Regions from separate parts of the Homo sapiens genome. Here all the other regions are linked to region 3. Evidence: fine-mapped expression QTL. A gene starts in region 3. Each other region holds a variant in brackets. All regions are shown on one strand. Distances are from middle to middle.

The links.
Region 1: its variant is fine-mapped to the expression of TUBGCP2 in whole blood (INTERVAL, PIP 0.98).
Region 2: its variant is fine-mapped to the expression of TUBGCP2 in whole blood (INTERVAL, PIP 0.97).

What each region holds. Positions count from the first base shown.
Region 1 is chr10:133,264,840-133,267,589 of GRCh38, forward strand. ADAM8 (ADAM metallopeptidase domain 8) reads right to left here. Exons shown (of 23, transcript NM_001109.5): 21 at 2,513-2,578. Among named protein-coding and RNA genes, the nearest start is that of ADAM8, 11 kb to the right of the region's middle. The variant G/C (reference allele first, on the strand shown) is at 1,262.
Region 2 is chr10:133,343,072-133,345,821 of GRCh38, forward strand. The region is part of intron 5 of ZNF511-PRAP1 (ZNF511-PRAP1 readthrough); the gene reads left to right. It also overlaps the pseudogene BANF1P2. Among named protein-coding and RNA genes, the nearest start is that of PRAP1, 2.9 kb to the right of the region's middle. The variant G/A (reference allele first, on the strand shown) is at 1,597.
Region 3 is chr10:133,307,646-133,310,395 of GRCh38, forward strand. TUBGCP2 (tubulin gamma complex component 2) reads right to left here and starts at 1,227. Exons shown (of 18, transcript NM_006659.4): 1 at 1,178-1,227. It overlaps ZNF511-PRAP1 (ZNF511-PRAP1 readthrough), which reads left to right and starts at 1,269. Exons shown (of 9, transcript NM_001396060.1): 1 at 1,269-1,451; 2 at 1,745-1,818; 3 at 2,131-2,332; 4 at 2,519-2,643. The coding sequence starts at 1,299. It overlaps ZNF511 (zinc finger protein 511), which reads left to right and starts at 1,269. Exons shown (of 6, transcript NM_145806.4): 1 at 1,269-1,451; 2 at 1,745-1,818; 3 at 2,131-2,332; 4 at 2,519-2,643. The coding sequence starts at 1,299. RefSeq lists enhancers at 404-633, 1,357-2,052, 1,460-1,754 and a silencer at 864-1,713.

The DNA of each region.
Region 1 (2,750 bases), 43 kb before region 3:
CAGCCTCTGCCCCATCTACCTCCACGCCTGTTCCTGCTGCAGCCTCTGCCCCATCTACCTCCATGCCCAGCTCCTGCTGCAGCCTCTGCCCCATCTACCTCCACGCGCAGCTCCTGCTGCAGCCTCTGCCCCATCTACCTCCACGCCTGTTCCTGCTGCAGCCTCTGCCCCATCTACCTCCACGCCCGGCTCCTGCTGCAGCCTCTGCCCCATCTACCTCCACGCCCAGCTCCTGCTGCAGCCTCTGCCCCATCTACCTCCACGCCTGTTCCTGCTGCAGCCTCTGCCCCATCTACCTCCATGCCCAGCTCCTGCTGCAGCCTCTGCCCCATCTACCTCCACGCCCAGCTCCTGCTGCAGCCTCTGCCCCATCTACCTCCACGCCCAGCTCCTGCTGCAGCCTCTGCCCCATCTACCGCCACGCCCGGCTCCTGCTGCAGCCTCTGCCCCATCTACCACCACGCCCGGCTCCTGCTGCAGCCTCTGCCCCATATACTGCTATGCCTGGTAACCATAACTTCCTTGGCCAGAAATCTCTCTGCCCCCTTCAGGCCCCCATTTTGCCTGTCCAGACCCCTTCTAGGACTATTTCTGCAACTCACGTACAAGTCTGAAGTTAGTTCAAATAAAAAGTTAAAAAGGAAAGAGAGAAATAGAAAATCACTATTAGGGCCGGGCATGGTGGCTCACGTCTGTAATCCCAGCACTTTGGGAGGCCAAGGCAGGCAGATTACGAGGTCAAGAGATCAAGACCATCTTGGCTAACACAGTGAAACCCCGTCTCTACTGAAAAAAAAAATACAAAAATTTAGCCAGGCATGGTCGCGGGCACCTGTAGTCTCAGATACATTGGGAGGCTGAGGCAGGAGAATGGCATGAACCTGAGAGGCGGAGATTGCAGTGAGCTGAGATCGCGCCACTGCACTCCAGCCTGGGCGACAGAACGAGACTCCATCTCAAAAAAAAAAAAGAGAGAAAATCACTATTAGGCAAACAGCACAGAACAACTATTGCAGCCAATATTCACCAATGGATGCCAAAACTAGTGGGTCCAAGCTTAAGGTTCAAAGAGTCTCAAGGTATCTCCCTGAGGCATCTGCTCACTATAAAAAGAAGACAGGAGCTTTCTAAGGAAAAATCTGTGGACGCTGCTCCAACTAGGCGCTGTGTCAACATCCCCCGTGACCGAAGCTGCATGTGGGCCAGGCCTGGGCTGTGCCTGGGGAAGGGTGTGTCCAGTGCTGCCCCCGCCAACAGTGCA[G/C]GGCCCTCATCCACACAAGGAAAGACGGGACAAACCCAGGCTGAGGGACTCTGAAAACACTGCTGGCCACACTTCCAAAGGGCAAGCTGAGGAAAGGCAGAGGGGCCGGGGGCTGAGTGCCTGGGGGGACCATGGCTGGAGAAGGGCGTCCAGAGGGAGCAGGCGGTACTGACTGGGTCGCATTGGTGACGTGGAGCCTCGGCTGCGCGCCCACACTGTGGCCATTCGGGAGCAGGCCAGGCGAAGGGCATGCAGGATTCTCTAGGCTATTTTTGCAACTTTTCTGTAAGTCTAAAATTTGTTCAAAATTAAATGTTAACAAAAAAAAAGCCTCAACCCAGAGGGCAGGGGCTCTCCTGCCCCAGGTCTTCCATGCACAGCCCAGTCCTAGGGCTGACCACGAACCTCTGTGGAGGGGGTCCCCGGAGATGCACCGTGGGACCTCTTCACACAGGCACCTCCCCAGCCCCAGCCTGCCCGCCACCGTCCTGCCCTCTCTGAGGACAGAGGCTGCTCACAATGTCCCGCAATGCCAAGTGGACCTCGATGGTACCACTGGGGCCCCGTGCCAGGCCCCAGAGAGAAAGCCTGGCCCTTTCTGCTGCCCTAGCTGAGTCAGTGGCCCCAGGAAGGGAGCTCAAGGGTCCTTCTCCACCCACTGCCAGAGCGGTTTCCCAGGGCTGAGGCCAATGAGCTGCCCCCACGGGGTCCAAAAAGGGCTCCAAGGTTAGCCCAGAGGTGGGAGCCAGGGCGCAGGGACAGGACCCCAACCCTGGGGGGACACGGAGGCCTGGGAGTTAACCCTCAGCATGCCAGGGCTCCAGTGATTCGGGTTTTGAGAGATCTTTCCAAAACCCCCAAAGCCCCCAAACCCAAGGGAAGCGCGGAACGTGTCCCTGCCCTGAGCCCACCCACCCATCTGTCCTGCAGGGCCCCAGGGAGTCCTCTTCTCTGCCAGAGCTTCAGCTCTGGGAGGGGCTTGGTGGGCGGAGCAGGTCTGAGTGGAAGGAGAAGGAGCCAGGACCCCCAAACCAGCTCCAACGCAGGGCAGGACTGAGCTCCTGCCTTCCTGTGGCCTCGCTGACCTGCCTTTCTGTCTGATGTCCTCACGAGGTCGGGCTAACCAGCCTTCTGTGTACAGCAGGGGCCACCTGGGGATCCCTGGCCCCCGGTGCAGTGCACAGACCCCAATCCCATCAGGAAGGCCTGGACACCCTCAGAAGGCTTGGCCGCCCAATCACCACTGCTCACCTGCTTTGGTGCCTGCCGGGTGTAGACAGGAACTGGGAAGGGTGGGCTGGACACAGTGACCGGAGGCTGGAGGAGACAGGGCCGAGAGCCTGGGTCAGAGCTGGGACCCCCGTGCCCCTCCAGCACCCCCAGCTCCAGGATCCGAGGTTCCTGCCTCTTGTGTGTGCTGGAGGCGTCTGCGCGGCCCACAGGGCCCCACCCCAGATGAGAGGCCCCGCCCCATTCCTCCCCTCAGCCG
Region 2 (2,750 bases), 35 kb after region 3:
GCCTGGTGTCTCCGCCCAGTTTTTTAAGCCTATCTTCCTTGAGTCACACTGGGTTGTGTGGTTGGAGGCTGTGCTCAGGCCGCGGGACCCACTCTGCTGGTGCCTCAAGGGTGGGCTGGGGGCCACGCTCTGTGTGGATGCAGTTTTTAAGGTGCCCGACCTTTACTTCCCACCGGCTGTCTCCCGTCTCCTGAGTGTGAATGCACAGACTTGTGTTGGGCCAGAGGAATGGGGAGGTCAGCTGGGACTGTGTGGGAACCTGGGGAGGCTCCCTGTGCCTTTCTCATTCCAGACCTGATCACCCCATTCAAGTTCGGGCTGGCCTGCCAATCACTGCTCATAATCCCCTTGGGGACCCCAGTTCCCTGAGCCACTGGCCTTCTGCTGCCTCCCCCGTGGAGCCACTCGGCCACTGAGGGGTGGGTGGGAGTGTAGCTGCCCAACAGGCTCATTCTGCTTGCTGCCCAGAGAGAGCCGATTTATCAGGGCAGAGAGAAACTGCAACACGGAAAGTTTAATTCACGCGGAGCCGGCTGAACGGGAGGCTGGAGCTTTATCACTACTCAAATTTTAAAGGATAATTTGGTGGGTAGGGGTTGGGAAGCAGGGAGTGCTGATCGGTTGGGTTGCAGATGAAATCACAGGGAGTCGAATCTGTCCTCTTGTGCTGAGTCACTTCCTGAGTGGGGGCCACAAGACCAGGTGAGCCAGTTCATGGATCTGGGTGGCACCAGCTGTTCCACCAAGTTCAGAGTCCGAAAAATGTCTCGAGCACCAATCTTAGGATTTACAATAGTGATGTTTTCCCTAAGAATAATTGGGGAGGCTTAGAATCTTGTGGCCTCCAGCTGCCTGACTCCTTTTTTTTTTTTTTTTTTTTTTTTTGAGACGGAGTCTCGCTCTGTCACCCAGGCTGGAGTGCAATGGCGTGATCTCTGCTCACTGCAAGCTCCGCCTCCCAGGTTCAGGCCATTCTCCTGCCTCAGCCTCCCGAATAGCTGGGACTACAGGCGCCTGCAACCACGTCCGGCTAATTTTTTGTATTTTTAGTAGAGACGGGGTTTCACCATGTTAGCCAGGATGGTCTTGATCTCCTGACCTCGTGATCCGCCTGCCTCGGCCTCCCAAAGTGCTGGGATTACAGGCGTGAGCCACCGCGCCCGGTCCTGCCTGACACCTAAAACATAATTTCTTTTTTATTTTTCATGAAAGCCACTGACTTTCTTGATCTAAAAAACTTTACAAGGACAGTGACTGTTCTGCCAAAAAAGGAGCCAAATAGTATCAAATGGACTGAAAGTGAGGGTGGAGGTGAGGGACGGGGCCAGGAATCCATTCAGGAAAGCTGGTAACTGTCACCAGGGAAAGTGAAAAAGGAAGGGGGAGACATGCAAGAGTGAGAGTCCAAAAAAGTTGAAATGGTTAGGGGAGAAAACTCCCAAAAGACCCAGAGTGCGTCAGACGTGAGTATGACAATAGCAATCTTCTCCTTTGTAGAGGACAGGGGAGGAGTCCCGACTCGGCTACAAACTCTGGGTGAGGGCTGGGGATTGAGAGCTTCCTGGAGAGCATCACAAGAAGGCATCGCATGCTCTC[G/A]AAGGCATCCGAAGTCCCGGGACTGCTTGGTGTTGGCACCACGAGTCCTTTGGCCATTCCCGGAACAGGTCTTCATCTTTCCTCAGCACCAGAAACTGGCCAAGGACAACATAGGCCTTGTCAAAGCCCCTTTCCTCCAGCTTCTTGCCCAGGACTTCACCAATCCTGGCCAGGCTCCCCACTAGCTTTTCCCCCATGGGCTCTGCCCTGAAGTCTCGGTGCTTTTGGGAGGTTGGCATCTTGATCAGGCTTAATCGGCAACTTCAGTTCCCGTAACGGTTCCTCCCGCCACCCGGCCGCTCCGGCCGATACCTCAAGCCACTAGAAGTTTCCTAAACCATAATTTCTAATCTTGTGACTAATTTGTTAGTTTTACAAAGGCAGTCTGGTCCCCAGGCAAGAAGGGGGTTTGTTCAGGAAGGGGCTGTTTTCATCTTTGTTTCAACATTAAACTATAAACTAAGATCCTCCCAAAGTTGGTGTGACCTACACCCAGGAATGAACAAGGACAGGTTGGAGGTTAGAAGCAAGGTGGAGTCGGTTAGGTCAGATTCACTATCAGGTTTTCGCAAAGGTGGTTTCAGGAGCAGCCCCAGGCAAGAAGGCCAGAGGAACATCTGTTCTCACCCAAGCCCAGCGGCTTCTTCGGGTGACCCCTCCTCAATAGCTCAGACGCTGTGGGTCACGTTGGAAATTCCTGAGTTGGCCTTTCTTGAGGGCCCTCACTCCACCCCCTTGGAAGCACGGCCTCCAATTGTGTCTGAACATGCAGCTTCGGGAGAACCATACCCTGCAGGCCGGCGGTCTCAGAGCCCCCAACAGTAGCTGCCCGCTGGGGGTTGTCGAGGAAAAGAGTGAAACCCTGTAAAATACTTGGAGAGTGATTCTGAGCCAAATATGAGTGACGGAAGGCCCATGATGCCGTCCCAGGAGATCCTGAGAACATGTGTGGCCCGAGAGGGTTGGGGTGCAGCTGGTTTGATACATGTTCGGGACACGAGACATCACTCAGTACGTGGGAGATGTACATGGGTTTGGTCCAGAAAGGCGGCGGGTGTCCAGGTCATTGGTGGATTCAGTAATTTTCCAATTGACAATTGGTCAAAAGAGTTAAGTTATTATCTAAAGACCTAGAATCAATAGAAGGGAAAGTC
Region 3 (2,750 bases):
GAGGCACGAGAATCGCTTGAACCCAGCAGGCAGAGGTTGCAGTGAGCCCAGATCGCGCCACTGCACTCCAGCCTGAGCGACAGAGAGAGACACTATCTCCAAAAGAAAAAAAGAGAAACGTATGGTTACATGATTTCCTTCTGTGCGATCATCAGAGTCACTCGCAGACCTGGATGGTGTACGGCCTACAATGCACCTAAACCACCTAGAGGAGCCTCTTGCTCGTGGGCTACAAACCTGCCCAGCAGGTGGCGGTGCTGAACACTAGACAACTGTAACACAGAGATATTTGTGTATCTAAACATGGAAAAAGTACAGGGGCAGGCATGGTGGCTCACGCCTGCAGTTACAGCTCTTTGGAACGCTGAGGCAGCAGGACCACTTGAGCCCAAGAATTTGAGGCCGCAGCGATCTATCAGCTATGATCGCACCATTGCACTCCAGCCTGGGTGACAGACGAGAAAGCTAAAGCCTCTATCCGCCACTGGGCCCATTCTCTGCAGTAGATCTGAAGCGTCCACTGCTTCCCGCGTGTGTTGTCATTCACCATTTTAATTAGGTGACTCTTTACTCTGACGTCTGTCTCTCCTACAAGGCTGCCGCGCCCTCCTGTGATGCCTTCCCCCACACGCCCTGAGCACCTAGCACAGGTCCTGTGTTTCACGGGAGCTGCGGGGACTGGAGAGGTCGACAGGACCCCGACAAACCAGGAAAGGGCCTTTGAACTAAAGTAACGGGAAGTCACCCAAGGGCTTTAAATTAAAAACGGTTACAATAAAACTGGAGTCACTTTGGCTCCAGTTCGCGACTGGTTTAGAGGGAACAAGATCCAGGGACTGCAGCGGGAGACGACAGGCGGGGCAAGGCGGACGGGAGAGGGCGTGCGAGAGGGGGACCTGCGACCCGGCTTCCCAGGGCTGGGAGGGGACACCCGGGACGACCCGGAGGCCCGCTCCGCCCCGCCCCGGCTGAGTGTCGGGCCGCGGGGCAAGACGCTGGCCTGGCCGGTGCAGGCCCGAAGGGCTTCGGCCCCAGAGTTCGGGGACCGCTGCACAGCCAGAGGGAGCGCGCGGGAAGAGCCGCGTCCCGCCAGCCCCGTCGCCTCGTGGGCCCCCCCGGGCCTGGCAGTCCCCCAACCCCCTCATCACGCCCGCGCCCGCGTTCGGCCAGGACTCACCGCAGTCCCGGAGCCACAGCCCCCGCGCAGCCCCCGACGGCGGCGGAAGTGAGCGTGACGTCACGTCCGGCTCGGCTCGCGGACGGTGGCCGACAGGCTGCGCCCGCCCGCGCCCGGGGTGATGCAGTTGCCCCCCGCGCTGTGCGCCCGCCTCGCTGCGGGGCCCGGGGCGGCGGAGCCGCTGCCTGTAGAGCGGGATCCCGCGGCTGGGGCCGCGCCCTTTCGCTTCGTTGCGCGCCCCGTGCGCTTCCCGCGGGAGCACCAGTTCTTCGAGGTGCGTGAGCAAAAGAGGGAAAAAGTAGTTGTAGGATCCAGTGGGGCCTACGGCGGCGAGGCGGGGCCGGAGCCTGGAGTGGGAGGGGCCTACGACTGCGGGGCGGGGCCGGAGCCTGGGACAGGCGGGACCTGAGGTGGTGGGGCGGGGCCGGAACGTGGAGTGGGCGGGGCCTGAGGCTGTGGGGCGGGACCGGAGCGCGGGATGACTGGGGCCACGGGTGTGGGCGAGGCCTGACGCGGTGGGCGTGCCGCGAGTCACCTGGCCCCGCCCACGGCGCACTTTTCCTGCAGGATGGGGACGTGCAGCGCCACCTCTACCTCCAGGACGTGATCATGCAGGTGGCCGACGTGCCTGAGAAGCCCAGGTAAGCGAATGGGCAGTGCCTAGCCAGTGCTACTCCTGCGCCGCCTCCCTGACCGGTGCCTGGTCCCTGGGGCTGTGCTGCCGCTCTTCCATGTGCGGCCGCCCCACCGAGGCGCTGTGCCTGTCCAGCTTTGGCGTGGCCGACTCTTCCACCACCTAGCCTGTTTGTGAAACTTAATTCATAAAAAGAGGGTTTGGGATTGCAAAAGATGCATAGGGGCTTTATTGGACGTCTCAAAGGGAAACTGTGCAGAAAGTCCAGCTTGGTTCCTCGCACCGGAGGAAGGGCTCCTGAAGCACGTCTCCTTGGCAGGGTGCCCGCGTTTGCCTGCCAGGTGGCCGGCTGCTGCCAGGTGTTCGATGCCCTGGACGACTACGAGCACCACTACCACACGCTGCACGGAAATGTTTGCTCCTTTTGCAAGCGGGCCTTCCCTTCCGGACACCTGCTGGACGCCCACATCCTGGAGTGGCACGATTCGCTCTTCCAGATCCTGTCTGAGAGGCAGGACATGGTGGGTGACAACTGCACAGCCGCCGAGGCCACCCCCCATTGGTGATGGGCTCAGAGTGCTGCCCCCAGCTCTCGGGTGCTCGGGCAAGGCCGGGGACACCTTTCCGCCCTTGGCAGCTCTGCTACGGGGGCATGGCGGTGGGGGAGGGCCAGGGGTCAGAGGGAGGTGACACGGTCTCCATTTCAGTATCAGTGCTTGGTAGAAGGCTGCACAGAGAAGTTCAAGACCAGCAGAGACCGGAAGGATCACATGGTGAGGATGCACCTGTACCCCGCGGACTTCCGGTTTGATAAGCCAAAGAAAAGCAGAAGGTAGGGAGCCGCCAGGCTCAGCACGTGTCTGCTTTTGATTTTAGGAAAAGGTTTCCAACTAGCCGGAATGCATAGACGGTCAGACTTATTAAGCACTTGTGTGTCAC